Regions from separate parts of the Homo sapiens genome. Here regions 1, 3, 4, 5 and 6 are each reported to be linked to region 2. Evidence: microRNA targets listed by miRTarBase, many of them from high-throughput screens and not tested one by one. Region 2 holds a microRNA gene; each other region holds the end of a gene's coding sequence.
Evidence for each region. Region 2 holds the annotated microRNA hsa-miR-3679-3p (CUUCCCCCCAGUAAUCUUCAUC, at 3,110-3,131, shown strand). A microRNA usually pairs through its seed, bases 2 to 8, with sites in the 3' UTR of a target mRNA and lowers its output. Matches are read on the target gene's strand: a 7mer-m8 pairs with bases 2 to 8, a 7mer-A1 pairs with bases 2 to 7 and ends in A, and an 8mer does both.

Region 1 (5,074 bases), not on the chromosome of region 2:
ATCAAAGTACCCACAGTAGAGACAAACATTTTAAATGTGAGGAATGCGGGGAAACCTGTCATATTTCCAACCTTTTTAGACATCAGAGACTACATAAAGGGGAAAGACCCTATAAGTGTGAAGAATGCGAGAAGAGCTTCAAACAGCGCTCTGACCTCTTTAAACACCACAGAATCCACACTGGGGAGAAGCCCTATGGATGTTCCGTCTGTGGGAAACGCTTCAATCAGAGTGCAACCCTCATTAAACACCAGAGAATTCACACTGGGGAAAAGCCTTACAAATGTCTTGAATGTGGGGAAAGATTTAGACAAAGTACACACCTTATCCGACACCAAAGAATTCATCAAAATAAAGTGCTGTCGGCTGGGCGTGGTGGCTCACGCCTATAATCCCAGCACTTTGGGAGGCCAAGGCAGGCAGATCATTTGAGATCAGGAGTTTGAAACCAGCCTGGCCAACATGGTAAAATCCTGTCTCTACTAAAAATACAAAAATGAGCCGGGCATGGTGGTGCATGCCTGTAAGCCCAGCTATTCGGGAGGCTGAGGTAGGAGAATCACTTGAACCCAGGAGGCGGAAGTTGCAGTGAGCTGAGATCATGCCACTGCACTCCAGCCTGGGCAACAGAGCGAGACTCCATCTCAAAAAAGAAATAAAGTGCTGTCATTTTGATATGTTTCTATGTGACTTGGCCTGTTTCTTTTCTTGTCCAGAACCACATTCCTTGCCATTTGGAGTATATCAGTCAATTATGGATCTTCCTTGAGTATCTCCTACAAGATAGGTTCAATCTGTCCTGAGCCTCATTACAGACTGATAGTTTCAGTGAGTGAGGAATGAGGAAGTAGGGGGCCTTCTGAAATGTGAGCTGATGCCAGGTAAGAGACTTCTGATGATAAGAGCCAGGCTGACATGTAACGGGGTTCTGTCCTTGTTATCTGCGCTCTACCTTTATGTATTATTTTTGAGACTGGGTCTCGTCGTAGCCCTCCAGCGGGAGCCCAGTGGTGTGATCGTGGTTCACTGTGGCCTCAACCTCCTGGGCTCAAGTGATCCTCTTGCCTTAACCTCCTGAGTAGCTGGGACCACAGGCACACACCACCACACCCAGCTTTTTTTTTTTTTTAAGAGATAGGGTCTTGCTATGTTGCCCAGGCTGGTCTCAACCTCCTGGGCTCAAGGAATCCTCCTGCCTCAGCTTCCCAAAGTGCTGGAATTACAGACACAAGCCACCACACCCAGCCTACCTTTATTTACTTTTTTTTTTTTTTTTTTTTTGAGATGGAGTCTCGCTCTGTCACCCAGGCTGGAGTGTAGTGGCATGATCTTGGCTCACTGCAACCTCCACCTCCTGGATTCAAGCAATTCTCCTGCCTCAGCCTTCCAAGTACTTGGGACTACAGGTGCACCATGCCATGCCCAGCTAATTTTTTGTATTTTAGTAGAGATGGGGTTTCACTGTGTTGCCTAGGCTGGTGGTGAACTCCTAAGCTCAGGCAGTCCGCCCACCTCAGCCTCCCAAAGTGCTGGGATTACACACGAGCCACCATGCCCGGCCTTTTTATTCACTTTTGAACCAAATCTTGCTCACTACAATTATTAATACTTGCCTAAGAATGTATTTTAGTCATTTAAAATTTGCCTTTGGCCTTAGATTGTAGAGAGGGTTTCAACTACTTCATAATCCCCAAAAGATCTGGTAAAGCTCAGTACTCAAAAGAAGCACTCTATTTTTCACTTTCCAGAAAACCTAATTTTGCATAGTCCCTCTTTCTTTCCCATTCTAGGAGCCTAGGAGTTCAGTTTTATGACTTGCTGATTTCTTTTTTTTTTTTTTTTTTTCTTGAGACGGAGTCTCGCTCTGTCGCCCAGGCTGGAGTGCAGTGGCGCAATCTCGGCTCACTACAAACTCCACCTCCCGGGTTCATGCCATTCTTCTGCCTCAGCCTCCTGAGTAGCTGGGACTACATGCACCCCCACCATGCCTTGCTAATTTTTTGTATTTTTAGTAGAGATGGGGTTTCACTGTGTTAGCCAGGATGGTCTGGATCTCCTGACCTCATGATCCGCCCGCCTTGGCCTCCCAAAGTGCTGGGATTACAGGCTGGAGCCACTGTGCCTGGCTTTTTTTTTTTTTTTTTTTTTTGAGACAGATTCTCTGTCGCCCAGGCTGGAGTGCAGTGGCATGATATCGGCTCACTGCAACCTCCGCCTCCCAGGTTCAAGCAATTCCCCTGCTTCAGCCTCCCGAGTAGCTGAGACCACAGGCACTCGCCACCACACCCGGCTGATTTTTTGTAGTGTAGTAGAGACAGGGTTTCACCATGTTGGCCAAGATGGTGTCTATCTCCTGACCTCGTGGTCCGCCCGCCTCAGCTTCCAAGTTTCTAATCATGCCTTGGTCTTTCCAGTTAGCCCCCAAGCTGAACCCATCGGAAATCCAAGAGTTGCCTTATTAGAACAAAGACATGCATCACTAAGGAAATTCCAATGGGTTTAACAGCTCTGTGTCAGGAACAAGTGTCAAAGACCAAATATGATAAGAAAAGATGCTCTTAGCACCCTTATCCCTCAGGAATTCTCCAAGGTTTGGGGAGCTCTCTGCTAGTCATTGAGGATGAAGACCAGATACATATTTATCATGATATCACAAGGCTTATTATACAAAATTTGAGTATTTCTTGCAGAAGTGAATAAAATAGAACATAAGAATCATCTCCAGTAAAGCAAGTGTGGTTGTCCTTTCCAGGTCCTGTGAAAATGAAGGGAAGAGAGTGTCTGCTCAGCTCCACTAGGGGCTCCCACCATCACGGTCAGGAGACCACTCTCTCCCTGATGTAGGTGAGCTGGGGCACGTGTAATAGAGGCCTCTGCTTGAAGGAATATCATCAGGAAACAGCAGTCAGGGCACTAGTGGCCCCTGACAAACACAGGGCAGAGCCCCGGGTCTAGTCTGGGTGTAGGTGGCTTCTGGGTGATAGTGGCTTCTCTTCCTCTAGGAACTGTTTGGAAACTGAAGAGTGTCTGGCCTGGACAGCACCTACACCTCCCTCTAAGTTTGAAGCCATCTCAGGATGGCTGCGCTTTGGATGTGACTGTTCATTTTCTATGGCTGAGTCTCTCTAGATTTGGCAGTTCCCTGTGGCTCAGTGAATTAGAAACAGTTCTCTCCTGTTTGTACCTTCTTTAAACATGAGGATTAATCTGAGTGACAAGTGCCTGAATGTCTGAACTGGTCATTGGAGAGAATCGTAAATACAAACTATCTTTTTTTTTAAAAAAAAAAAAAAAAAGGTCTCACTTTGTCGCCCAGTCTGGAGTGCAGTGGTGTGATCTTGGCTCACTTGCAGCCTCAACTTCCTGGGCTTAAGCGATCCTTCCACCTCAGCCTCCCAAGCAGCTGGGACTACAGGCATACAACCACCACACCCAGCTAATTTTTGTACTTTAAAAGTATGAGAGAGGCTGGGCACAGTGGTTCACGCCTGTAAGCCCAGCACTGGGAGGCCAAGGCTGGCAGATCACGAGGTCAGGCATTCAAGACCAGCCTGGCCAACATGGCGAACGAAACCCCATCTCTACTGAAAATACAAAAATTAGCTGGGCATGCTGACAGGCACCTGTAGTCCCAGCTACTCAGGAGGCTGATGCAGGAGAATCGCTTGAACCCAGGAGGCGGAGGTTGCAGTGAGCTGAGATCTCACCGCTGCACTCCAGCCTGGAAAACAGAGCGAGACTCGCCATCTCAAAAAAAAAAAAAAAAAAAAAAAAGATGAGGTTTTGCCATGTTGGCCAGGCTGGTCTCAAACTCCTGGGTTGAAGTGATCCACCTGCCTCAGCATCCCAAAGTGTTGGGGATTACAGGCATGACGCAGTGCACCTGGCCTGAGAGCAATATTTGTTTGTTTTTTTTGACACGGGGTCTCACTCTGTCGCCCAGGCTGGAGTGCAGTGGTGCAATCTTGGCTCCCTGCAACCTCCACCTCCCGGGTTCAAGCAATTCTCCTGTCTCAGCCTCCTGAGTAGCTGGAATTATAGGTGCCCACCACCACGCCCGGCAAATTAGAGCAATTTTTAATACAGACATAGGATGATGTTTAGGATATCCAAATAATTTAAATGGATCTCTTATATTGTTGAGCTCTAGGGAGAATACACTCAGCTCAACCTATTTAAACTGAATGTCAGAATGTGCTTAGAATAATTGTGGAAACAGAAGGGATATGGCTTCTCAGAGAACATAATTGACACTTTTTGAATACAAGTAGTTTATTTGTTGGGGAGAGGTTGCAACACTATTAGGGAAGGTGGAAGAGACAGAAGGGAAGTCACCCAATGAGGTATCTACCTTGGGTGAGTGCCTGTGTGCAATTCATGGGGAACCTCTGGAAACTAAAACACATGCTTCAGAGTTTTCCACACATGGGGAGATGGAGAATTTGGTGTTTATCAAATTCCCATCGATGATTGGTTGACAGCTGCTCCCAGAATGTGTTATTACCCCACAGGCCACAAGGTGCAGACACAGTCAGATGAAGCCCACAGAAGGTGTAAGGCCAGAGGGACTTCGGCAGGGCCCACGGCACCTATTACAAATATTGACTTACAACTCTTTTTTTTTTTTTTTCTTTTTTGAGATGGAGTCTTACTCTGTCACCGAGGCTGGAGTGCAGTGGCATGATCTCAGCTCACTGCAACCTCTACCTCCCAGGTTCAAGCGATTCTCCTGCCTCAGCCTCCTGGGTAGCTGGGACTACAGGCGCGCACCACCATGCTCGGCTAATTTTTGTATTTTTTAGTAGAGATGGGGTTTCACCATATTGGCCAGGCTGGTCTCAAACTCCTGACCTCGTGATCCACTCGCCTCAGCCTCCCAAAGTGCTGGGATTACAGGCGTGAGCCACTGCGCCGGGCTGACTTACAACTCTTATCAGAATCTAACATACTCATTTTAGATTATGGGCAACTTTTTTTTTTTTTTTTTTTTGAGATGGAGTCTTGGTCTGTCGCCCAGGCTGGAGTGCAGTGGCGCAATCTCAGCTCACTGCAACCTCTGCCTCCCGGTTGAGGT
Region 2 (5,074 bases):
TGGCTGCTGATGAGCATTTTTCCAGCATCTGCCATGTGCTGTGCACTGGGCTGGTGCTGGGTATAAAGATGTCCTCCTAAATTATCTCACTTTTAATTTAGCAGACCTTCTCTTACTGTGTGTTAATACAAACTAATAGCTCTTGGAAAGCTGCCAAGGTGGGTCCCAGGAGCCTTAGCACTGTAACCACGTTCTCAGCTAGAGGAGTTTGGACTCGAGCTGTGTGTTTGCCCATTTGGACTGTTGTATTTATTTTTTTCATTGCCACAATTAAGTGCATCCTTCCCTGACTTTGTCATATCTGCAGGGCTATGTGTGTGCATGGGAGGGGTTGGAGGAATCACTTTATTTGTTCAAAATCCCACAGTTCTCTTGTCTAAACATACAATCTTCTGGAATGGGAACAGGGCTTTCCTCTCGGGACTCTGCCCAGTCTTAAAAATCAGGACAGGCAAGGGTTATAAGCTACTGTGGCTTGGTTTGGTGGGAGCAGTTTGTCTTGTAAACTAGCACTCTCTCTTTGTCACCTTCACTGCCAGGCTGGCATTAATGCCTGCTGGACCTTGACCCTTGCTCAGGTGGCTCCCTGCAATGGCTAAGGAATATTTCTCCACTCTATTTCCTGACAAAGTGAACTCAGGAGTGAGTTACACCCAAGTACTTCTGTTACTAGTAAGAGTTAACTACTGGTGCTTGCAATAGGTTTACTTTTTAAAATGTCAGCACTTCAAGGTTATCCCTAGAATAATAACAGCCTCACTTATTTGCATCCCTTTGTGATTTTTGTGGCTGGCCCTTGAGGGAACATGTGCCACCCACCCACTCCTGTTTGAACTTCACGCTTTAAAGTTGTAGTTCGGTGCACAGACTTCTTATAAGTCCTGTCATGCTGGTAAAATGTTTTTTAAAAATTATTATTATAAATATCCTACACAGAAAAGTCTTCCACTCTATTAGTTTTGGGTCTTTTCCATGTCTGGGTCCCCTCATGGGAGTGTGTTATGTTGGTGATCATCGTAGAGATTTTATTATATGTCTTGGTGGAGAAACATCAAGAAAGGGTAGACAAGAAAATAGGAATGATGGCGATGAAAAAAATCCACCTTCTCCGATTGGCATTATTGCAAATGCTTCTTTTGTACTACAGGTATTTCACTCAACAATGAGGTAGATTCTGTTGTTATTCCAAGTTTATACATGGAGAGACCATAACATCATGAGGTCAGGAAATCTAGCTAAGGTTACAAACAGCTACTCAGTGGCAGAGCAAGGATTTGAAGCCAGGTGGTCTAGATCCAGAGCCAGTGTGGGTTGGGCTGTGAGTAGTGGTTAAGGCTGGTGAGTATGCCCTGTACTAGCCAGCACCTTCTTTCCAACCTAAGCCGAGAGGGCTTCATAGATACCCAGGGGCACTGCAGGGAGGGCCCTCCTCTTTCTAGCTGAGGTCACCGAGGTGCAGAGAGGTGGAGGGACTTTCTCAAAGTCTCACCAGCAGGCAGCAGTGGCAAAGCTGGACCTCACATCTCCTCTGTGGTCCCACAGGAACAATTGGTAACAGTTGATAACGGGTGCCTGCCTGCTTTGTTTATAGCAATGATACAGGAAGAGAATTGATGGCCACTGGGCATCTGTTCCTCACTGGAGCCCACTGTGTGCTCACACCCAGCTTCACCTTGGAATGTGGTAGGGAGCAGGTTGGTGTGGCCCAGTTCCCTCCTACCATCCCCAGCTGGGAGAATCTAAGTGACGTATATCCTTTGGAATGAGGGGTTCCCTTTCTCATGTCACCTTTTAAGTTTGACATGATAAGAATCCAGTCTGGGCTGGATTTTACATTTCACTCTTATTAATTCTCTGTGTTTTAGGGCTCCTGGCTCCTCTCAGCATTGATTTCCTTTCTTTAGGAGCATGGGGTAGGTGAGGAGTGACCTGGAAGAGGTATCAGGACCATTCCTTAACATTTCTGATAATCGGTGCCTGTGAAGACATTCCCGCAGTGTCTGCGGAGTCCTAGAAAGAGAGCAGAGGCCACACAAAATGCTTTTCTGAACCCAAGATCGCCATACTTTGTGGAATCTTCCCATTGGACATAGCAGTGAGCACCCGTTTCCTTTCCTGCCCTCACCTGTTCCTGATTCGGAATGCTTCTGCCAAATAAATAGTCACTGGCTACCCAAGGAGTTTAAAGTCTAAGCCTGGTCAATGCACACCCAGAAGAGTTAAGTTCAGTGATAAAGGGAAATGTAGATGAACATACTAATTCAGCCCATGTGACCACTTTGGGCCTCAGCTGTTAGGTTGAGAAGTAAGAGGGGATTGAATGCGCTCCAAAGATCCGTTCAGTTCCTAATGTTGCTTAATTCTATACATGTGGCAAAAGGCTTGTAACATAAATTAAATGAAATTCCCTTATTAAATTAAAAAGAAGGTTGAGAACACATTCAGGTTGTTTTTGCCCTGGCCAGTAGACTCTCTTTAGCAGGCAGCCGAAAAGCTTAACTAAGAAGAATCAGCCCTTTATTGTTACTCTCTTTGGGGATGTTTATCTTTGTATGTTTAGAAATAAAAAACCTTGGTCCTTACTTTCAGCCCTGAAATAACCTGCTTTCCTTTAGTGAAGCTATTTTTTCCCTTGGGAAATTGAGATTCAAAGAGTAGAGAAGATGACCAGGCTCATAGCCTTCTGTGGTTCCTCGCACAGTGCCCTGGGGACGTGGCTAGGTGTTTACACACTGCCACAAGCAGGGCCAAATTCTGTCTACACATTCAGTGTGTAACTACTACCTTTCAACATAAGGAAGTTTGGTATCAGTCTTCTTGCAGCTGCTTTTTTTTTTTTTAAACCATCTTATTTTCACCTCCAGTTTGTTATTTACAAGCATCCATGCCGGTGAGGAGTTTTCTGAATGACCGATTCTTTCTTGGATGCAAAGAGAAAGTACCATCTCTGCCTCATGCTCTGTGTGATTTCTCTGTTTTCCTTTGGCACCTTTCTTAGTATTTGTTTGGTATACTTCCTTCGTCCCCTTTCCTGTAATTTTTTAGAGCACCTAGTTAGAGGCCCCACGTGGTGAGGATATGGCAGGGAAGGGGAGTTTCCCTCTATTCCCTTCCCCCCAGTAATCTTCATCATGCGGTGTCCCCAGTCCTGTGTAAGACCTTTGCAAACACAGCTTCAAGCCCCTCTGTTCATCTTGATTGCCTTCCCTCTGTAAAAAAGTTCTAGTCTCTGTGACTAAGAATGTTAACATTCTTCCTTTATTTGATTTTTAGCTATTATGCTTGGTGGGTTTAAAGATGACATTGTTATTGGGCAGTCTTCACTGTACATTACACACAAATGTAATTCTCCTGGGTAAATACGATCAACTTTTAGAGGTTCACCATTCCTCCTTTGCAATTCTTATGTCCAGTGAGCTCCTTCAAGGAAAAGGTTTCCCCCCCCCCCAGGCTTGTTCCAACCCCCCCAAAACAAAAAAAGAAACATGTAGGTCCAATAAAGAAAGGAGTGTCATGGAGCTCTCATGGGTACAGGCTGGAAGCTCCAGGCCTGGCGTGCTGGAGTCACGAGATGAGCTGTCCAGGCAGCATGGCATCGTGAGTGAACTCCGACCGTGGCAGGTGAGGCTTCTGCACTTAGCTGGCTGTCTTCATGTGGGCCGATTCTGTGGTTAGTGATTCTGATTTCTCATCTGAAAAGTGGTGCATCACTTAGCCCCTCCCACACTTGGAGGGTTCTACTAGTGTGCCTGCGTGGCTGGGTTCTGCACACTCAGCTACTTTAGTTTCTTTAGTCTATCCTTAAAAAGATTCCTAGGTGTGTTCCTGATTTTGAGGTTCCGTTTGGTCATTATGCTCTTTCAGAGTTCATCTTTTAAAATCAGTCTGTGGACATTTTTTTTTTCCTCTTAGCACAGTTTATGGTCTCATGCAGGTCAACAAATTGGGACTCTGAATGTGAGTGTGTGTGTCCACACACCACTAGGGCTTATTACCTTATTGTCAATGTTATCTTAAGAAAAAGTGGAGGCTGGGTGCAGTGGCTCATGCCTGTAATCCCAGCACTCTCAGAGGCTGAGATGGAAGGATTGCTTGAGCCCAGGAGTTTGAGACCAGCCTGAGCAACAAAGCAAGACTCCTGCCTCTACAAAGAAAAAAAAAAAAGAGAGAAAGAGAAGGAGAGAATGAAAGAAAAGAAAAAGAAAAGAAAGAGAGAGAGAGAAAGAAGAAAGAGGGAGTGATCAGAGAGCTGCAGGTTTGGAGTAGCCATCAGTTAAAGGAAGTCTGCAGAAAGTTTCTGTGAAAGGATTTTGTTACTATGGCCTTTCCCCTAGTACCAGCTTGTTAAGTAGTATAGGTAGGGGATCCTTGGTAATACTGTGTATTAAGATTTTATTGTTCTTCCTGTAAAGTGTTTTTCATGATAATGAGTTGCTTATTCTATGATAGTGCCTTTTCTCTATTTCTGTAAGCAGAATCAAATACAACTTTCAAGTTTTATTAGTTCTTTTTTTTTTAGAGACAGGGTCTTTCTCTGTCACCCAGGCTAGAGTGCAGTGGTGCAATCATAGCTCACTGTAACCTCCAACTCCTGGGCTGAAGTGATTCTCTTGCCTCAGCTTCTTGAGTAGCTAGGGCTACAGGCATGTGTCACCACGCCTGGCTAAATTTTTAAAAAAAATTTTAGTTTTTGGAGAGACACGAGTCTTACTATGTTGCTCAAGCTGGTCTCGAAGTCCTGGCCTCAAGCGATCCTACTGCCTTAGTCTCTCAAAATGCCTTAGTCTCTCTTAGTGCTCACAGTTGTGAGCCACCGTGTCTGGACAGCTTTCCATTTTTTGATGCCATGTCTGGTTAATACTCTTTAAGTTTCCGAGTTTCTTCCTCCTAGTTCAGTGGTTTCAAGTGTGACTGTTCTATTTCCTCACTGTCAGTCTCTAATAGAAATACTACAAGATTACTTCTATTGCTGCTGTAACAGCCACAAACTTAGCAGCTAAAGCCACACACATTTATTCTCTTTGAATTCTGTAGGTCAGAGGTCCCTTATGGGTCTCACTGGCCGAGATCAAGG
Region 3 (5,074 bases), not on the chromosome of region 2:
CACACTTGTAATTCCAGCACTTTGGGAGGCCGAGGTGGGTGGATCACCTGAGGTCAGGAGCTCAAAAGCAGCCTGGCCAACACGGTGAAACGCCATCTCTACTAAAAACACAAAAATTAGCTGGGCGTTTGGCAGGCGACTGTAATCCCAGCTACTCAGGAGGCTGAGGCAGGAGAATCACTTGAACCTGGGAATTGGAGGTTGCAGTGAGCTGAGATTGTGCCACGGCACTACAGCCTGGGCAACAGAGCAAGGCTGGGTCTCAAACAATTTTTGAGATGGAGTCTCCACCTCCTGGGTTCAACCAATTCTCCTGCCTCAGCCTCCTGAGTAGCTGGCATTACAGGCACCTGCCACCATGCCCGGCTAATTTTTTGTATTTTTAGTAGACACGGGGTTTCACCATGTTGACCAGGCTGGTCTCCAACTCCTGACCTCTGGTGATCTGCCCACCTCGGCCTCCCAAAGTGCTGGGATTACAGGCGTGAGCCACCGCACCTAGCCAGTCTTTGCACTTTATTAGTGGTCTCTCACAAGCTCTCACTTCAGGACCAGATGGGATACTCACCCTATGAAATGGCCTCTGGGAGCCCCAGTCTGGTGCTGGTTGGGGGGATTCACTTCTTGCATCACTCTCCAAGACCCCCCCAAAGATCCTGGGCTGGTGACTATCTGGATACTTAAGCATTGAGTCCCGAAGTGTCTGTCCCTCCCGTAGTCTCTCACCAGGTGTCTCTGACTCAGGACCTGGAAGTTCTGCAGAAAGGTGGCAGGTGTTTGCTGGGATGGGAAAGGACTTGGGCTCTATTAATCTCTCTGAAATCATCAGTCTTCTCACACTTCCCATCCCCCAGCTACTCCCTGCAGGCTCTTTATTTCACCCACCAACCCACCAGAAACCACAGGTTGCCCCTTAGGGAAAGCCACACACCAGGAGGATGGGAAGGCAAGGTCCAGGCCCCCATATCGCTGAAGATGCTATTGAAATCTCGTACTAGGTCATCAAAGCCGAAGTTATCGTGGAAACGTATCCCTCCTCCTGGGCTGAAGCTGAAGCCGAAGCCAAATTCCTCAGGGGGGTGCTGAGGACTATGGAACCTTGGGTTCCCACGGCCCCATGAGCCCCCTTCTTCTTCTTCTTCCTCATCATCATCTTCATCTCGAGTCATCCCTCCAAAAAAGGGATCTCTGTGGCTGAGAGTGGAGGCAGATTGGCCACCAATATTTCAGCACTATTTAAGCCATTAAATCAACTCATGGGTGGCAAAGTGGGACAAGAGCAAGGGGTCTGGGAAGCTAGGGAGAGGGTCGGAGGACTGGCTGCCACATCAAAACATTAATACAATGGCTGACAGTTCTTTTTTTTTTTTTTTTTTTTTAATCAAAGTCAGACCTCAGCTCGCAGCTCCCTTCATACACCTTCCCCCAGTTTTTCTTCAGTGTGCCCCAGTCCCTCCTCTCTCTCCCAAGGTCCTGCTCACTTGCTCACTGTCTTATTCCCCAGACCCTCACGGTCTTCCCCGCCCGGGTCCCTGTTGCATCACCCCAGGTTGGAGAAAGGCTTAGTTTGCTGTTTCTCCTCTTAATGACCGCCTTGGTTACTGTGGCGGGGTGAGTGTTCAATGTTGCGACTTCTGTCCTCTCTGCAGGAGTTGAAGGAGTGGGACAGAGGATGTTTTTCCAAAAATAAGACGTAGGGGTCAAGCTCCCCTCAGACGACCCCCACCCTTGTCCGAGCCGGACCTACTCTCACCTCCGAGGTCCAGGAAAGCCGAAAAAGCCCCGGAAGAGATCAAAGAGGCTCATTCCCGTACTGGGACGCGAACCTTTGAACCCCTCCAGTGGTCCATTCGCAGACGGGGGAAACCTGCGCAGCCCTGTGAGAAATTGAGCGAGGCGTCAGCCCACGCTACCGGAAAGCAAGCCCGCGATCCTGACACTGTCGTAAACGACGGTAAGCCGGACGTGAAATGGAGGCGGGACCGAAGGTCTTCCTCAAATTTGAAAGGCTTTATCTTTACCCCACCTTTCAGAGACCAGTTTCCGTGACGGGAGTGGGCGTGACGCACTTTCAGTTTCCTATGACCGCCTTCCTCCTAAATCTGTTCTTCTTTCTGCAGACCAACTCAGTACGAAAAGCGATTTCGAGGGTTTGACTCTGGATGGCACCCGGATAAAGCCGCCAGAGGGCAGCCCAGCCGCACAAATGGACCGGCTTGAGGGCGTCCCTCAACCACCCCACCCGCGGGGCTGGCCAGCCTCACAGCAGAAGCCACCTCGCTCCTTACTCGGGCGTTCTTTTTGACTGACCTGGGCGATGTCTGCTGTTAGAGGGATGAACAAAATGCTTTTCCAAGCTCCTTCTAGTATTGAATTTCCCAGAGAAGAGATCAAGACATAAGAGACGCATGGACTTAACTTCCTCCACCTCTCTAGCTACTAGGGAGTTTGTTATAACTATATAGAATTCTTTTTTCTAAGCAGGCTCTGCAACCAGCAAGACAAAGGATTTTTAAGAAAGCAAGGGAAGGGAAGCTAGTTGAGTCCTGAGAAGGAACAAATTGGGGGTTATAAAGAAATATCCCTTTGGTATCTTTTTTTTTTTTTTTTTTTTTTTTTTTTTGAGACAGAGTTTTCTCTCATGTTTCCCAGGCTGGAGTGCAGTGGCACCATGTCGGCTCACTGCAACCTTCGCCTCCCAGGTTCTCTCCTGTCTCAGCCTCCCGAGTAGCTGGGATTACAGTCATGCGCCTCCACGCCCGGCTACTTTTGTATTTTTTGTAGAAACGGGGTTTCACCATGTTGACCAGGCTGGTCTCGAACTCCTGACCTAAGGTGATCCGCCCAACCCAGCCTCCCAAAGCGCCTGTCCTCATTCCTTTTTAAAAGTGTTTTGTTCAAAACCTCTCCGAGACCTGTCTCTCCCTGTACCCCATCCCCAAGCCAGACCTTGCTCTAGATTCTTTTTCAAAGAATTGGGTATAGCTATGTCACAGAGAAGCATCCAAGAAGCCACTACTACAGTAGTCCATTCCTAGGGGGAATGGGCCCCAAGGTTTTGTTTTTTTATTTCGTTTTTGGGGTACAGGTGGTGTTTGGTTACATGGATGAGTTCTTTAGTGATTTCTGCGACTTTAGCGCACCCATCACCCGAGCAGTGTACACTGTACCCAATATGTAGTCTTTCATCCCTCACCCCACTCCAAGATTTAGTTCTGCCAGACGATACATGTTGCCTTCACTTCTTTTTAGTTTATTTGCCTGGACCCATCTAAGTCATACTTAAAACTCTATAAAGCATTTTTTTTCTTTGAAATGGTCTCAGCTCCTTCTTGATCCTCTCCATTTTCCACCCAATCTCCTCTATCCCTCTCCCTTTACTGCCTGAAATCGGCTGTAGATGTAGCAGTTTCTGGAGGAAATGAAGATTTGTGGTGGTTCTTTCCAGTCACCAGGTTGTGAAAGTCTTAGGGGTGAGGGGAAGGAAATCCCCTCAAGGACAAGATACTACTACCACATTAAGGTCAGGAGTTCTTAAAGGGCGAAGATTTCATTTTATTCCACTGCCTTCAGGGGCCTGCTAGAGGAGGCCCAGTTGGTACAGTAATACTTATTCACCAAGCTGGTCATCGACGAAATTGAGGATGTCCTAGACGGAGCAAGAATAGGCAGAGGCTGAAGGTAGAGGTTTTCTTTTTATATATACAAGACACATTAATCCATTAAATTTGAGGACACAGTACAAAAAAAAAAAAAAAACAAAAAAAAAACCACTTCAACTAATTCATCTGACAATGCTGTTCATATTCATGACGCCATTTTTTTGTTTGTTGTTGTTGTTGTTTTCCTAATAATAAAGAAGGAGACTTAGGGCTGTTGGGCTGATATATGTTTGGGGGTCCCACCTCCCCGCCTCATCCGTACACCACCAGGGTGAACAGGAGGAAGCAAAGGAAGTGCAGGGCCCATAGCAAAGTTTCATAATCTTGAATGCAAGAGGGGAGAAGGAATGGAAGGGGGAAAAAAAAGGAGAAAATACAAATCCTATAATACATACAACAGGGTGGGGATGGTATAGGAATGGGACAGACATGAAGCTGAGGCATGGGGTGGGCCGCTGGGGGTGGGGGGCAGCGGAAACCCCCCACATTCCTTTCTCTTTGATGCTGTTTCCATAGTTTCCAGGCTGAGAAGCCCTCTCAGAAGATGGGACCGGGAGAAGAGGGTCAGGGCCTCAGTTGGCCCCCCAGCTGTAGCTGTTGTAGGCAGACTTGTTGGTCTGGGGCTTCTGCGGGATGGAGCTGGTCTGGCTACGTTGCCCGCTGCCCGTCTGCAGGGGAATGGGAGGATCATGAGGAGGAAAAAGGTGTCTAGTTAGTGGTACAAATTTGTAACATCTTCAGGTGGAGATGTGCAAACTGTCTTGCTCTCCCATTCCCCTCACTACTATTAGAACCATAGAAAATTTGGTCTGCATAGCTGCTAAAGCCCCTTTCTTACAAGCAGGAAGGCATTTTTGACTTTTAAATAGGGAAAAGATGAAGAGGGCAAGATACCTTTAGAGACAAGGTAGTGAGTGAGTTCTACTCATTTTCAATTCTACATTCTCACACTACCCCCTCTCTCCCCTGCTCTTGGAGATGGGTGATCACAAGGCAATTTCATTTCCATTGATCCCCATTAATGCCTCAATTTGGAAAGCTGTCTTTGAGGAAGGAAGCCCTTATTCTAGCTCCAGCCACCTATAATGGAGCTCTCAAGAGGCCACTTGCATCGCCCCACAGATCCCCACCCCTACCACACATCACATCTGTGAGCCCATTTCAGGCAGGTATGAGAGGCAGTCTGAGGCCTCAGGCTCCAGATGCTGCCCCAAGAATCTTTTCCATTCTGGTAACCGAATGTTTTCCACAGCTGGGGAAGGGTACAAAGATAAAGAGGGTGTTGGGGAGGGGAGGAGGAGAGAGGAAGGGGAGGCCAGAGAGCTCAGCAAGGTGTTTGTGTTTGTGTATCCCGATTTGTGACCGCGCAGTCTTTTCAAGTTCCCTGAGGCTGTGAAGGTGAAATGGGGACT
Region 4 (5,071 bases), not on the chromosome of region 2:
AGGAGATTGGCCTGATAGCTGTTGGAGGAAAGTTTAATGTATTTTCTTCCAAAGCAGAGGTCACAGCCCAAAGACCTACAGAAACATGGAATGTAGTGGCAAATTAGGAGTAAGATGGATGTTAGGCAAAGCAGAGGTGGAGACGGTGGTGAGCTAGAGAGGGCCAGGGACTCTCTGACACAGTAATGACTCTGCTCCAATTGGACATGGAAATTTGGATCTAACATAAGCCAGTTCTTCCCATCTTCCTAGAAAACCCAGTGGTTGATTTGCATTAGAATCTCCTGGTGTTCAGATGTTGGCAATCAAGGTTAACTATATGCCTGTAGAATTTCCACAGCCTGCTCCCACTCACCTTTAAAAGCCTTCCTTGGCAGACCATACTTACCTAAAGTAACCGCATTCCTGTTGGCCTTCTTCTTCATCATTCATCAATCTCTCACTGTATTCGGTAGCTGTGTATAAATGCACGTGTTTCATCATTTGTTTGCTCCCTCCAAATGTAAGCTCCATGCCTGGAGTACTTTTTTTCACTGCCATTGAATGAAACATTATTTAAAATGGCGTAGGCCAAAGGCTATCTGAGCACTGTCTGTGACTACTACTCTCATGCATTTTGCTCACTGCTCATGATCTTAGAGGACTTACACAACCATTCTGAACATGTCAGAGTCCTTGGTATTGTTATAAATTTTTATATGTGTTAATTTCCCAACTAAAAGACACACATCTTAGGAGCCACAGCTGTATTCTCTCCATCTCCCTTATGCTTTACTCACAGAGAACATTAAATATCTGATTTTTTCAGGAAGATCAGCTAGTGAAACAAACAGGAGTTGAGCTGTGTATGACATAAAGAAAAGCACTGGAAAAAACATTCAAACTGTTTGAAACAAATGATTTCTGGTACTTTGGCACCCTCGTTACTGCTCCTTAAAGATAGCAACATGATTTGGGACAGGAGGCCTTGATGGCTGGTATAATACGGAAGTCACCAAAAGCCTTGTGCATTTAGGCTGAAAAAAGCTTTTGTGACTTATGTCAAATAAACATGATAAGGCAAACACAGCCCTCTGCAAACAACTGCTAACATCACAAAGGGATTCTACTGCTTGAGGCAGTGTTTTAATGCAATAGGTTAGTGTCATTTAAAAAAATTCTCTATTATAGGTGCCCAAGGACTTCAGTTTTATCCTACATGAACACACATTGATCCAAAAACCAATTGAACACAATCAGTGTAGGTGTTTTTAACTTCTCTGTCCAACACACTACTGTAAGTTCTAAAATGTGGGATTATGTGTGAAGTGACATATATTATCATTCCATGGGAATTTCTGACATCACGGCTAAAGGTAAAGTTTGATGGAATTGTCACTTAGAATGAGGTAGGTTATCCTCCTTTTCCTTTCCTAGCCATTACGATTAGCTCTCACAGATGCAGAACGTACGGGAGGCAGAGCTACTGCAACCTGTGGCTGACTCTGGAGGTGTGGGTGGAGGGGGTTGAATCTGTTTCCCCTGGACTGGAGCTCTGCCCTGCTCCACACTCCTGGCTCACAGCAGATGTGGGACACTCAACTCCCGACAATGGATGTTTTCTAATAACCTTTCCAGTCCCAAGGTGTCACATGGTCCCTTTTCTGGCCCAGGACAGGATTATAATAAAACTGATGCAAACACCATCCTTGAAATTAATACCAGATAGCCCTTTAAATGGGACAGCCAGAAAATGAAGCCTAAGAAACTTCAGTTACTAAACTTCCTCCATGAGGCCCAAGGCAGACTAACCAGCTGAGACTAACATGGATTGGAATGTTTATAAGTAAGATTTTTAGTTATTCTCATGAACCTTACTGTGGGCCGGTCAGTTAGCAAGTCCTATATAATGCTTGTTAAAGATCTCAAACTAAGATTTTCAGGGCTCACAGGGATTAAGTGGAATGGAAGAATGGAGAGAAGCCATTTCTCCCGGCTGAGTCCATCATGCTCAGGAGACTTTTACCCTCTTCACTTCCTGACCCATCAATGATGTTCCCTTCTTGGCTTTAGCTCTAACCTGTCTCCAGAGCATCTGATCCATTACTTCCAAGTGTTTATTTAATGGGGCCTCCCCTATGGGCAACTTTAAGACAACAAGTCTAAAATGAACATTTTCTCCTGCCCACTCAAAGCTATGCTTTCTAGCATTACATTCCTAAGATATTTAGTTTTTATTGGTTCAGTAACCATTTGAGTGCTTACCTGTGTTGCAGCAGATATAGGAAAGAATGATGAAACTCAAATTTAACTGGGTAGCAAAATTAAAATTTAAAAAAATGAGATGCAGCCCTGTCTAGTGGGGAGAAGAGCATGTGAAGACATAAGTACACTCTTCAAGTGCCACACGGACATGAAGGAGGGGACACCTTGCCCCATCCTGAAGTCAGGGACGACATCAGAGGACAGGAACGCCTCTGTGTGTATTCTTTTCCTTAGCTCTTCAACTGAAAAGGATCCTTGAGGCAAAATCTTTTTCTTAATATGCTTATTTCCCACCATAATCAGGGCACTCAGTGCACAGCAACTAGCAAACACTTGATAATGCTTGGGCCAAGGCATCACTGACCCAGGTGCCCAAGCAACAGGGCAAAATTGAAGGCAGCCCACCCACCAGGCACCACGCAGAGCTCTCTACCCACAGGCTGAGCTCTCTCTCTGTGCAGCTTTGCTCTGAGGAAGTCTAAATGTAGTAAAGAATATCCTTTTTTTTAATCCTTAGGAAGACTTTCTCCACTGAGATAAATGTAAAGATAAATTCTACCAACCTTTTTCAGACTGTTAAATGTGGAGAGTCCTGCTTCATCATCATCATCATCACAAACGCACAGCACTCATCATTTGCCCAATGATATTCTAAGTACTTAATATATAGTTCATGCACGTAATGCTCACACCAACCGTATGTGGTGGGCACTATCATTATCCCCATTTTATAGATAAGGAAAGAAGGCATGAGAGGTGAGGTGACTTGCCCAAGGCCAGAGAGCTAATTTTGTGTTACCAGGATCCAGAGTATACTCTTAGCCACTCCGCTCATCCTTCTGATTTGGGGTGGTAGTCATATCACATCTGTCTTTTGCACTCTGGGATATAGAAGTACTAAGATGAGGCATTTGCAAAAACAAAAACACAGTGCTCACCAAACTAACATTTATTTAGCTTTGTTCCCTCCCATCCAAGACTGCTGATCTCTAAACAAGCATCAAAACCCGAAGCTCATTAACATCAGAGTGAGCTTCAATAAGGTGAACACTACAATGATGTACAATTACATCCTAATAATTCAATGCCCAAGAGCCCTGTAGAACTATTGCAAGGCCCAGGATTATCACAGTATGCAAATGCACTAGGAAAATCATTACCTATTTAGTCCCCTTTATTTTGGTGGGTTTAACATGAGAAGAATAATCCATGCTACAAGACGAGATTTCATTTTACAGCTGTAGTAACCAAGTGCATAAAAGCTTGAATCTGTCCCAATAGCTTCTAAAAAATTTTTCCCATAGTGTCAGAGGCAAAAATAATGAAATCTTGCAAATGTACAGTTAATAGGACCCTAGTGGACACTAACTTCAAAAATGCATGGTCTATAAGATATTATAAGGCTTGATTCTAGTTTCTGCACTGTTCCTGTTAATAACAATGTCTAATTAAAACATCTGTAAAATACTGATAGTTTTAATTTTACATAAAATTTCCAAAACAACTGTTACACAGTATAATAGGTATCTGCAATGAATAGGTTATTAATGGAAATATTAATTTAAATTAAAATCTGGTTCTAAATTTAAATTAGTCATCTCTGGCTAATGAAGAGAAAAAGAAGTCACCCGTGCTGGGAATACAGTAGAAAATTTAGTTTTCAACATCTGTTAAAGCAAATTCACTGTACCACTTGGGCTAAAGAACAATTCACTTTGTTGCTTTCTGTCTTCTCCATTTGGCACATCTGATGGATTTCACAGTTGAACTCAATATTAGAACTACAGCCTAATGCACCTTTTAATACATTACTTTATAATTTAAAAACCACCATTCAACTTTCTTCACAGTCTGAAATCCCCCCTCCCTGTTTTCCAGTGAAGAGACAGCAGAGAACACTCTTCCCTGTAGTAGCTTTTCCCCCACAGCCCCACCTAACCTGATGAATATTTTAAAAGGAATGGCACAAAATCTCAGCTTTCCCTTTCTTTGGGTCTCATCTTCAGTTACAAAATAAAAGAGATTAGCAAGGCTTACTGGCTAGCCGCAATTCAATACCTTTCTTTCTAATTAATGCACAACAAAAGAGGGTTAAAAAGCGATCAGCACTGACTGGTGTCTACCGATGCTGGCACTGAGTTGGTAAGGGATTCATTCCAGACAATAAGAAGCTGCATTTCAAGTTGCTTCAGATGCACACACTGCTTCACAATAGGTGCTGCAGAATGTGGTCCACAGCATGAGGGAAACTCTCACAAGTTAAGTAAGGAGGTGGATTAATTTTTTCTTCATCTGATGCTCGATATTTCCCTGAAATGAAAGTAAAGCCAGTAAACACAGGCTGCCACCAGAATGCTAAATTAATCATACCCCATGAGCACCTGGGTCATCACAGCACCACCCTTACAGTTAAGACAGAATCAGGGGCTGCACATCTCCCAAATCACCTTTTATTGAGGCTTCAGGATGTAAATGAGGCAATTCAAAGAAATGTCACATTCAGCCTTTCCCCAGGCCCTCTGGTCATTCACAATGGACAGCCACAGGTACTGGATCGTCTGACAGCTAAGATTCCCTTCACATGTTCACAGCTGATGAAATCATTTTCTTTCCCCTACCCTCAGCTCTAAAGATAGATTGGTGATTAAATTAATGCTTTAAAATGGAAGCCCAGACCCCAGAGGGCAGAGGACTCATCCGCTCCCAAAGGCAACTGGGAACAGGATGTGCTGCTGCCACGCAGGGATCCAGGCAGCCCGGGAGCCCAGCAGATGAGAACGCCCTGGGTTGGGGAGGAAAAGAGTGATGGATGCTCGCAGGCCAGGGG
Region 5 (5,072 bases), not on the chromosome of region 2:
ACATAAAAATGGAATTCAAAATTGTGTCCTACTGTGTTCTCATCTAATGTGTTATTACTGTTGTAAATCAAATTACTGTGTGACCGTGGGCAATTTACTTAACCTCTCAGTGCCTCAATTTTCCACATAAAATGAGAATTGTAGCACTGGTATTACAGGAGATGCATGAGAAGCACAGAAGAATAGTGTCTGGCCAAATCAATAGTGACAGAAAGCAGATTAGTGGTTGCCAGAGGCTGGGATGAAGGGGGAATGGAACTGACTGCTGACAGACCTGGGGTTTCTTGGTGAAGTTACAAAATGATCTAAAATTAGATGTTAGTGATAGTTGTGCAATTTTGTGTGTGAATATACTAAAAACCACTGAATTGTACATCTTAAAAGGTGAATTTCAGCCAGGCATGGTGGCTCACGCCTGCAATCCCACTGTTTTGGGAGGCCAAAGCAGGTGGATCGCTTGAGCCCAGGAATTCAAGACCAGCCTAGGCAACATGGCGAAACCCTATCTCTACAAAAACTACAAAAATTAGCCAATTAGGTGTAGTGACGCATGCCTGTAGTCCCAACTACTCGGGACACTGAAGTGGGAGGATTGCTTGAGCCCAGGGAGGTCGAGGCTACAGTGTGCCATGACTGCTCCACTGCACTCCAGCCTGGGTGAGTCCCTGTCTCATAAAAATAAAAAATAAAAAGGTGAAGTTTATGGTAAAGTGTATTTCAATAAAGCTGTTATTTTAAAAATTCTTAAAAAAATAGAATAGTGCCTGGCACACAGTAAGTGCCAAATAAAGGTTAGCTATTATTATTAGTAATATCATTGTCATTATTATTATTTGGCCATTCTGTGGCCTAAGTAAACCCCAAGAAATTCTCTATTTTTAACAAAAGCCTACAGAATCTAGAAAAGTGTTTCTAATTTATATACATGAATTAACATTTATACATTTATTTCCATCCAAATGTCTCAGAAACAGTCTAAGAATCACAATTTCAGTGTTTTGCACTGAGCTAAAACAGCTGCATGCAATGGATGTCTTATCAAATCATGATAAGCTTTAGATAAATTCTAATGACTTGATGTTACCCAAGAACTTGAACTGACAGATTTTCATTTTTGTCTCCAGGAATGAACAGGCAGTCCAAATACTGTTAGTAGTTACATTATATAAAGCACACAATTAAATGTCCAAATACAGGCTTGGTAGCCTTCTAATCACATTTTGGGAGATACTGTTTATAAAAAGACAAATATAGTAAACAGTAAAATGCTTACTAGTCCCATGTCCTGTGACCCCACCTTGCCCAACAACAGGAAAACCCCACCAAAATGAAAATATGAAAATCAACTCATGTAATAAACCTCTTCAGAGGCAAAAGACTTTAGAGGCAAAAGACTTAATGATTAACGGTTGACTTTTAAGACTTTACTGCACATTCAGATATGTTGGAATCAATTGAGTTTTTATACTCTGAACAGCAATTAAATCCAGTCTTTACCCGTCCTATTGCTAAAGAATATGACAAAAGAGTCTTGGTCTCAGAAGTAGGAGCAGCAAGTGATTACTCATGATGGCAATGATGCACCACATTCTGCAGTGATGCTCACATGCCTGAATTTCATCTGAAGCATGAAAGTTCCCAAATCCTGCAACAGGGTTTCCTTTGTTGGAGTCCCCGTCCTTGCCGTCTTCACTTCTATAATCAGCTATGTGCCTTTGCAGCAAATCAGGAAAAGCTGTGTTGAGGGTTACAACTTCCAGACATTTAGGTCTTAACTTCCATCACAGAAAGCAATGCACTTTTTTGAATATATTAAGAAAATATTTATTCATCCCTTCAAGCCACTCACTTTCAGAAAGACAATTGAACATCCATTTTATCAACCTTCATTTAACCCTTTTCCTGTTTAGAAAAAAAAAAATTGCCAGCGCTAATTTACATAAACATTCTCTTTGAGGCTTAAGCAAATCTAACTGATTTTCAATGTGAAAAAAGATAAAAACTGAGTTATTTCTAAAGAGAACATCAGAATTGTCTATTTCAAAAAAATTGGATTCATCAAATGAATCTTCGGCCAACAACTGTTCGAGAATGATGTTAACATCATGTATAGGCATGCTACGTTTTCTAGGATTTGACATTTTCAGTAATCAAGAGTTACTATATTTTGTAAATGGAAATACCGCTACTAAAAAAAAAAAAGAATGCTATAAATAGAACAATGTCTTTTGTTTCCAAAGTCCATATACTAGAATGATGTGAAAATAATAAAAGCGAAATATTTCGTAGGCAAAGTTATCTTGGGGTAAATGCTACAACTGCAAGCGCCACTGGCGAGTATTCTCGGGGCAAACAGAAAGAAGGTTAAATCAAATAAAATCATTCCCTAAGTCACCCAAGAGCAAAGATAAATACATAGAACAAGCTGCCTTAAGTCCCAATATTTATAACCCACCCACCATGTACATCTACACGAACCCCCCAAAGCTGTGGCCTTAGGAATTTCTGACCAAACAATTAGCCTGAGTAAAATTCAATAAACACTTTTAATTCCCCCTTGAGAAGCATGGTTACTTCTTTAATTTTACATTATAGTCATTGAGACAGATTACGAAACAACTTTGGCAGAAAGAGAGTTTTAGCAGGAAGTAAGAGAATTTCAGACATTGGAAATGGATAATAATTTAGAACCAATTTCAAAATGAGGATCAGTTCCAAAGTATTTTCTTTACTCATTCAAGATTGAAACATTGGCTCTGTCCACACAAAGGTTTATTTTACAATTTAAAAGGTAAATTGTAATAAATAGAAATATATAACCAAAAACTCTGGACAAGGCTGGAACCAAGGGGACCCACTTTGTAATGCTTTGTTATTATCATTCCAAGAACCCATTTGGCCCTGTATTCACTTGGCTAATGTGGGGATGGAGAAAGTATGACTTTGGAATCATATATCTATGTGTAGGTAGTCTTTAAATACAAAATGAATAAATATTTAAATTATATGATAAAGAAAAACTGGGGAATAAGAAAGTCCTATGTTTATCAACTAATAGTATATTTACAATGAGTGTTTTCTGCCTGACACCTAATCTTTGTCTATTAGAGTTCCTCAATGTGCAATTTATAGAAGGCAACAGTTCATATTGCCTTAAAGGAGCCCTGTTTAGCTCAGAATCAGCCTGTCCCAGATGCTCTGCTCCCTGAAAAACCTTCACACTTGTGTGCATAAATATCTGAGATTACAAGTAGGTGCACATGTGCAACATGTACTTATCTAAAGGGGAGCTAATTAGCTTGATAAAGTCTAAAATCAATAAAATAAATTGCTATTCCCCAACCCAAAAAAACACATCTAATGAGAAAACTGCTAAGCTCACCATGAAAAGGCAGCAGCTGTAAACTCATCCCATCCCACGTCATGCTCTAAGTATCTAGCTGTTCTATTAATCAGCCATCAGAACACTAAATCCCTCCCTGTTCACATGGTTAAATACAGGCTTCTGATTTAGCTTTACTTTCTAGTTAAGAGGCCAGACTACAGAGAATATTAAACAGCTCCTTTTAACTATGCTGCATCCAGACTGCCTCATTCCACCCTAAGAGAAGGTGCCCACATGATAATATGCACTAGAGATCTACCAATCTAAGTTTCTGAGGTCTTCTTTTTGGATAAGTTCCAGCACTGGAATATTCAGAATTTCAAAGGAAAATTACATGTTGACTACTGACATTTTAGACTGCATATTCAAAGTTAAGGAGCAAGATTAAGACTAGAGTGCCAACCAAGATGCTGTTAAACATGGCAAAAAGGTGACAGCACAAAGGGACCAAAGAGGCTGATTCTTTAGAGGCCCTTTGCTTTTTTTTTTTTTTTTTTTGCAACAAGTGTAGAATTTCCCCTGATCAAAATCTGAATATTGGTTAATGCATGTTTTCTCATTCTCCGTGTATGAACCCACTCCTAACCTCTCTCATTGCCTTTTTAAGCTTAAGAGAGAGAAATAAAAGAAAATGGATATAGACCATGTATTTTTATTTATGAAAAGAGAGGCATATTCTAATAGTCATAAGGCAATGTGTTTAAGAGCTGCACCTGAACTGGTATTCTCAAAACTGAAAATAGTTATCAACTCTATTCAACTTGTAAGATGTATCTATGTGCTTCCCAAGTCACTGGTTGTCACCCAAATGGACCACGGTGACTCCATCATGCCTTAAGGAGGCATTATATACTGTGTGTAGTATGCACATGTATTTTTAAAGAAATGACATTAAGAGAGAAAAGAACAGCCTTTCAAACATCAGTTCCTCAAATAAGGGGTGACAGTGCTATATGGCTCCCTTTTAATCTCCTCACCTACTCAGTTATCAAATACCTCCAAAATTAGACAAATAAGGGCCAGAGACAAAGCTCCATGGTGAATTGCATCTTTCAGATGTGCTTTCAATTCACTGGTTTTTAATTTCCCATTCCTGATTTACTGAGGAGTAAAGGTGAGAATCATCCAACTGATGACAAAGTAAAACAGGAAAACAGGATAAACAGCTAGGGCTCTGCGGTTTGGAGGCTGGCTATCAGCAAGGAAAGCTGTGGAGGCTAAACAAAACAAGACAAAACAAAAAGGAATGTTTAATACAGTAATATTGTCACAACTATTAACATTTACTAAACATTCATGAGCTTGGCATCATCTAGAACACAGAATTACACTAAAAGTTTAGTTATACTGGTGATCCTCAGAGATAAAGGCATTCTGCAACATAGTTTTTCAGAGAGCCGAGGCCGAGGACTTATTTCAAGTACTAAACCATTTTGGATGGAAATCTTTCTAAAAGGAGTTTTTTACCCTTTTCTGGAAAAGTTATTGAACTGTACTGAAAAGGCTTACAAAGATGTGTAAGGTTATTTGTTCCTATGGTAAACGGCCTCGTGCTGCTCTGCTTTTTGAGCTAACTGTGCTTCTGAAATTGTCAGCTCTTTTAAACGCCATCCCTCCCTTGTCCATCTAAGAAAAACCTAATCATCGTTTTACTCATCAAGAATCACCCTTCTGACCAGGCACAGTG
Region 6 (5,074 bases), not on the chromosome of region 2:
GTTTTATTTGGAAAAGTAGGATTGTAGGCGATTAAGAGCTGAAATATATCAAATATTATAACTGTAATGTCATGTCAATCAATTTTTCCCCCCATATAGTACAAACAAAATCCCGAAATGTTCAAACAGACAGCTCGACTTTGGGCACATGTGTATGCTGGAGCACCAGTTTCTAGTCCAGAATACACCAAAAAAATAGAAAACCTATGTGCTATGGGCTTTGATAGGGTAAGTACATAAGGGCATGTTGATTTTGATATATTGATTGATTTTAAATTATTGCAAATTCTTGGCTGACAAAAGTGGTTTAGAAAATAAGAGAAATTCGCAGCCTGGGCAACATGGCGAAACCCATCTCTACAAAAATTAGCTGGACATGGTAGTGAGTGCCTGTAATTCCAGCTACTCTGAAGGCTGAGGTGAGAGAATCCCTTGGGCCCAGGAGGTCGAGGCTGCAGTGAGCGATAGTCATGCCACTGCACTCCAGCCTTGGTGATAGAGCAAGACCCTGTCTCAAAAAAAAAAAAAAAAAAAAAAAAAAGGAAAATAAGAGAAAATCTAGTTTTGGTAAACATATTTTCTGTTTTCAAAGTCAGTGATTTTTTTATTTTTACTAATTACTGTCATTGATTTTAGAAGCTTTCCATGCACTGCAAATGTAAATCAACTTACAGAAAAGAAACAAGGTGTTAATTCCCAGTATAAAGAGTGAATGATTCAGTATTGTTTAAATGTTTCCTTGAGATTTAATTTCCTGTCCCCTTTTCTTCTCTACAGAATGCAGTAATAGTGGCCTTGTCTTCAAAATCATGGGATGTAGAGACTGCAACAGAATTGCTTCTGAGTAACTGAGGCATAGAGAGCTGCTGATATAGTCAAGCTTGCCTCTTCTTGAGGAGCACCAACATCTGTTATTTTTAGGATTCTGCATAGATTTCTTTTAAACTGGCATTCTTGCCTAATGATGTTATCTAGGCACCATTGGAGACTGAAAAAAAAAAATCCCTGCTCTGTAAATAAAGCTAATTAAACGTCTGTGTAAATTTAAAAAGGGGAAATACTTTAATTTTTTTTCTTAATAGTGTAAAAATTCCCTGAGCTAAGCTAAAACCATGGAAGAAACATGCTACTTTAGTGTTTAGCAGTGTACCAAGACTAGCAAGAGTTTGCTTCAGGATTTTGTTGAATAATTAAGATAATATTTTGAGTGTGTCAGGGCCATTCAAATTGTTGGTGTTGCATCACAGCTACCTTAACTGTTTTTAACATGGATCCTCTGTGCCTGTGAATTTACTTGCATGCTTGTACTTGACTTCTTAGGATGGGTAGCTGAAAAGACCACCATTTTAAGCATTTGAGAATTCTTAAATATGAAATTTATTCAGAATTGAAGATGGTGACCTATTCAGAGCCTTTTTGTCCTTGTCAACAGACTGGGACAGTGTCTGATTCCCCCTTCACCCCCCCCACCCCCGCCTTGCCACACACAGCTAATATTCTAATGGTAAATTTCTCTGTATCAGGTGGGGAAATGTGCTGAAGGACAGTATGTATCCCTTGCTTCATTTTTAGGTCGTAGGTTTGGAATGTCTTGTCCCAGTTCTTCAAACACTCTTAAATTTTTCTTAAGTAATGTAAAAATGGAACTGCCAATTTTATTTCTCTTGCAAAAATAGTAAATACTTGATGTTACATTATTCCCAGGTTTAATGAAAGAACCCAACTTAGTTTTTCAGTGAATTTGACACCTATTTTTTAGTGATGAAATTTTTCTTTGAGAACTGGCAAGGATGCAGTCAGCTGTTTGCAGTTTTTAGCCTGATTTTGGGGTCTATAGAGATTGCTTTATTGGATACTTCAAGTCATTCTTGCTTGCACTTCCCCTATTGACACATGAAAGCTGTGTTGGTGTTTTATTGTACATACTTCAGATGCACATAGGAATAGAAGTGTGTTATAAATCTAGCTTTCTTTATGATGTTTCTGATAATACGAGAATTGAAAACTTTACCTTCTCTTGTACATAGTCAGACTATTTGTATTAAATTTACATTTCATTCTAAGTTCAAAAGTTTGAAAATTATTAGTTTTGCAAGATCACACACTAATGTAACCATTTTATGAAGGTTGAAGTGGATTTATGCAGGCAGTTCTATATATAGAAATACAATTCTTTTTAAATTTTTAGGACCAATACAAAATAACAAAAATGTAATGGAATCAGACTGAATTAAAGTAAGGCTGTATATTGAAAGTCATATTATAAAAGGTTTGCTTTCTTTAAGTGTTATTTATCTTAAATTATAATCGTTAAATGTTTGGAAGATAATTTTTGAATCATAACGTCAGCATAACTTCATTTGACTTCTCAATAATCTTGATACTAGAAGCAATAAAAGAACCATTATTAAATATATTGTAATGTTAAAGATGTGAAGGTTCTTCCAAAAATTTGTAAGGCTTTCCTAATTAACAGTAAACTCTTATAGCTGATATTATTACATACTAAACACAAGTTGCTGTTTTTTCCCCATATGTTTGCTTACGCATGTCTTTATACAATCACCTCTTTTTATTGCTGTAGTTTATTTTCTAAAGATGCCAAAGGAAACAAGATTTTTCTTTATTTATTTTAAATACCTGAAACCTCGTACTTTATATTTTGAAGTAAGGTGGGATTGTGTGAAAATGTGGATGGTTTTTCTCCAGTGTTGGTTAGAACTACTTTTTTTAAGTGGAGGGCAACTTGGTAGTATTAGTAGAATTTGGGTTTAAAAATATCAGACACATCTACCCAGTTTATTTTTTGCCTGTATTATCAGGGTATATTTAATTGTCCTGTGGTTAAACAAAGGTGAGAGAGCTCAGAGGTTTCTAAAGGTCAAGCATTTTACATATATACATACATACATGCTCTTGGAGGCAGCTATATCCTGCTTTGATTTTTATGCACATGAGCCCTATAGGGTTATATACTCATCTAACTACACTTCAGCATCCCCAGTGCCCAAGAAATTGGAAAGTACAATATTTGGTTTGAGACATTCTTCATAAAAGATTCTTTATTATAAAAATTTACCTCATTTACATTTAATGTGATGATCTTTTTTTTCCTTTCTGGTATATTTCCCACTGTACTGTTTGGTTTTTGTTATTCTCTTGTCTGTGGGTAGATTTAGTTACCCAAACATAGAAACTAAAGCAATTGCTTTTTTCCTCTGGTCTTAAATATGTTTGGACAAAAAGACACTAAAAGGTCAGGCCTAGGGGAAAAGTACCCTGGTGGAAATTATTTTTGTAATTCTTAATATTTTTGAGTTGGCTCCGTTTGTCAGTTTTAAAAGCCTCAAAAATTATGTTAAAAAAAAAATCCAGTGAAATCCCATTTAGGGCAGGCCGATTTGTTAGAAGTCACTGATGCTCCAGTAGGCTTTTGTTATAATCAGGCCTGTTTCCTGAGTATGTGCCTCTTTTAAAAGAAGAAATAATTAGCTGTATAGTATTTCAGTACTGATGAATGAATGAATGAATGAATGGCAGTTAGTGGACCCAAATAAGTATTCAGTGGTATATAAATATTTGAGGAACTAGGTACTGAATTAGGTGCTCTGAGTTGGCACCCCGAAATGTTTGGAATCACGACTATGATTTACTTAAACACGTAACACATTCAAGGATATATAAATGGAGTCTAAGTATTTTGCTTTTGAAGAGAATAATCTATGAAATGGAAGACTTGATTTTTTTTTTCATTTTTTAGAAGTAATACACATTTATGATTGTTGGCACATAAAACTATGCAAAATAATTCTTTTTAAGTATCTGTAAGAAAGAATTGGCAGTTTAAACGGATTTTGCTTATTTATGCACTACAGAATGCAGCATACTGTATTACTGTTGAGGCTGCTTAATAAGTTTACCAATGTGAAAAGCAGATCTTGGGTATAAGTGTATGCCTGATTTGAGCTTTTAAAACTGTGCAGTAGGTGTATGGTAATGTTTTACAATCCTATGTAGCAAAATAGGAAATTATGAATTTTTGTTGTTATTGTTTTAAAGATTTAAGATGGATTGGGGTAGGGAACAGCTGGAGCCAGGTATACCTTCTAGTATGTAGAGGGAAACAATGTTTAGATAGGAAAAAGGAAGCCGTCTGTTTACAGTTAACTTTATTTCATGGACTTCTACAAAATGTTGTATTAATCACTTTTTCTAGTTCAAGGAATTTCAATTCCAGGGTACAAACCATTGATTTAAAAATTACGTTTCCATTCTTTTTAGTATCAGTTTAAAGTAAATGCTTACCATCAGCCAGTTGCTGTCACTGGGAAGAAGGCAACTTGAAGTATTTACTGATAAAATAGCCTTTATTCCCAAGTGTGACTTTTCTTCAGTGTCTACATATTATGTCACACGTTCTATTTGCACTGCTGCAATATAGATCAAAGATCTTGTGGCATAGGGGTAGGGGAGTGTTAGTATCTCCCTTGTCCCATTTGTTCTGTTACTGCTTCATTGGACTGATACACCCTCATGAACTTGCAATCACCTAAATGGAAGTCTTGAATGTGTCACCTTTTGCTTGGTTATTTCAACCATGCTGCTATATATAATCAGGTGTGGCACAGTTTGTCAGTTTGATTATAGGTGTGAGTGGATAGAAATCATTACACTGTGCTGTTAACGATCCTTGTCTGCTTGCTGTTACCTACTTTTTACAGGCATCATAATAAAAGCTAGACTATTTCTTTGGGGGGAAAGAGACTTATTTAATGTAATTTAAAAAACTTTTCCAATAGAAAATGAAATATTATTGAAAATAATATCTATTTTTTAGCTTTCAGCAATTGATGGTGCTTTGTTGTGGTGTCTGCTGGAAGTCTACTGCCATTATAGGGAACCTTGCTTGTTAGCTTCTCTAGATCTCTATTCTAAACAATCTGTTAGTGATGATAAATTCTGTAGGAGGGTCTATTCTGAGCCGTTAACTTCCTGTAAGGGGAAAATGGGTGGGTTACCAGAAATACCATTGAAGCAGGGTGGGCTGTGGGGTGGAAGGTTGGGGTATTTGTCT

Region 1: miRTarBase lists ZNF394 as a target of hsa-miR-3679-3p. The part of its 3' UTR that is shown has no 7-base or 8-base seed match.
Region 3: miRTarBase lists UBAP2L as a target of hsa-miR-3679-3p. The part of its 3' UTR that is shown has no 7-base or 8-base seed match.
Region 4: miRTarBase lists HDHD2 as a target of hsa-miR-3679-3p. Seed matches in the 3' UTR shown: 8mer at 4,161-4,168.
Region 5: the mRNA of YIPF6 is a reported target of hsa-miR-3679-3p. Seed matches in the 3' UTR shown: 7mer-A1 at 3,899-3,905 and 7mer-m8 at 2,551-2,557.
Region 6: miRTarBase lists UBE2K as a target of hsa-miR-3679-3p. Seed matches in the 3' UTR shown: 7mer-A1 at 1,052-1,058, 7mer-A1 at 1,526-1,532, 7mer-A1 at 3,267-3,273, 8mer at 4,753-4,760 and 7mer-A1 at 4,999-5,005.

Annotation. Positions count from the first base shown.
Region 1 is chr7:99,488,847-99,493,920 of GRCh38, reverse strand. ZNF394 (zinc finger protein 394) reads left to right here. Exons shown (of 3, transcript NM_032164.4): 3 at 1-681. The coding sequence ends at 392. Among named protein-coding and RNA genes, the nearest start is that of ZNF394, 8.9 kb to the left of the region's middle.
Region 2 is chr2:134,124,059-134,129,132 of GRCh38, forward strand. It overlaps MIR3679 (microRNA 3679), which reads left to right and starts at 3,067; the gene lies at 3,067-3,134. It also overlaps a transcript of MGAT5 not described here.
Region 3 is chr1:154,269,456-154,274,529 of GRCh38, reverse strand. UBAP2L (ubiquitin associated protein 2 like) reads right to left here. Exons shown (of 27, transcript NM_014847.4): 27 at 3,683-4,330. The coding sequence ends at 4,235. HAX1 (HCLS1 associated protein X-1) reads right to left here and starts at 1,901. Exons shown (of 7, transcript NM_006118.4): 1 at 1,754-1,901; 2 at 932-1,194; 3 at 569-756. The coding sequence starts at 1,806. RefSeq lists an enhancer at 1,838-2,007 and a silencer at 2,145-2,285.
Region 4 is chr18:47,104,232-47,109,302 of GRCh38, forward strand. HDHD2 (haloacid dehalogenase like hydrolase domain containing 2) reads right to left here. Exons shown (of 7, transcript NM_032124.5): 7 at 3,179-4,554. The coding sequence ends at 4,451. Among named protein-coding and RNA genes, the nearest start is that of HDHD2, 44 kb to the right of the region's middle.
Region 5 is chrX:68,531,411-68,536,482 of GRCh38, reverse strand. It overlaps YIPF6 (Yip1 domain family member 6), which reads right to left. Exons shown (of 7, transcript NM_173834.4): 7 at 1-4,602. The coding sequence ends at 4,484. Among named protein-coding and RNA genes, the nearest start is that of YIPF6, 35 kb to the right of the region's middle.
Region 6 is chr4:39,777,583-39,782,656 of GRCh38, forward strand. It overlaps UBE2K (ubiquitin conjugating enzyme E2 K), which reads left to right. Exons shown (of 7, transcript NM_005339.5): 6 at 100-228; 7 at 778-5,074. The coding sequence ends at 852. Among named protein-coding and RNA genes, the nearest start is that of UBE2K, 82 kb to the left of the region's middle.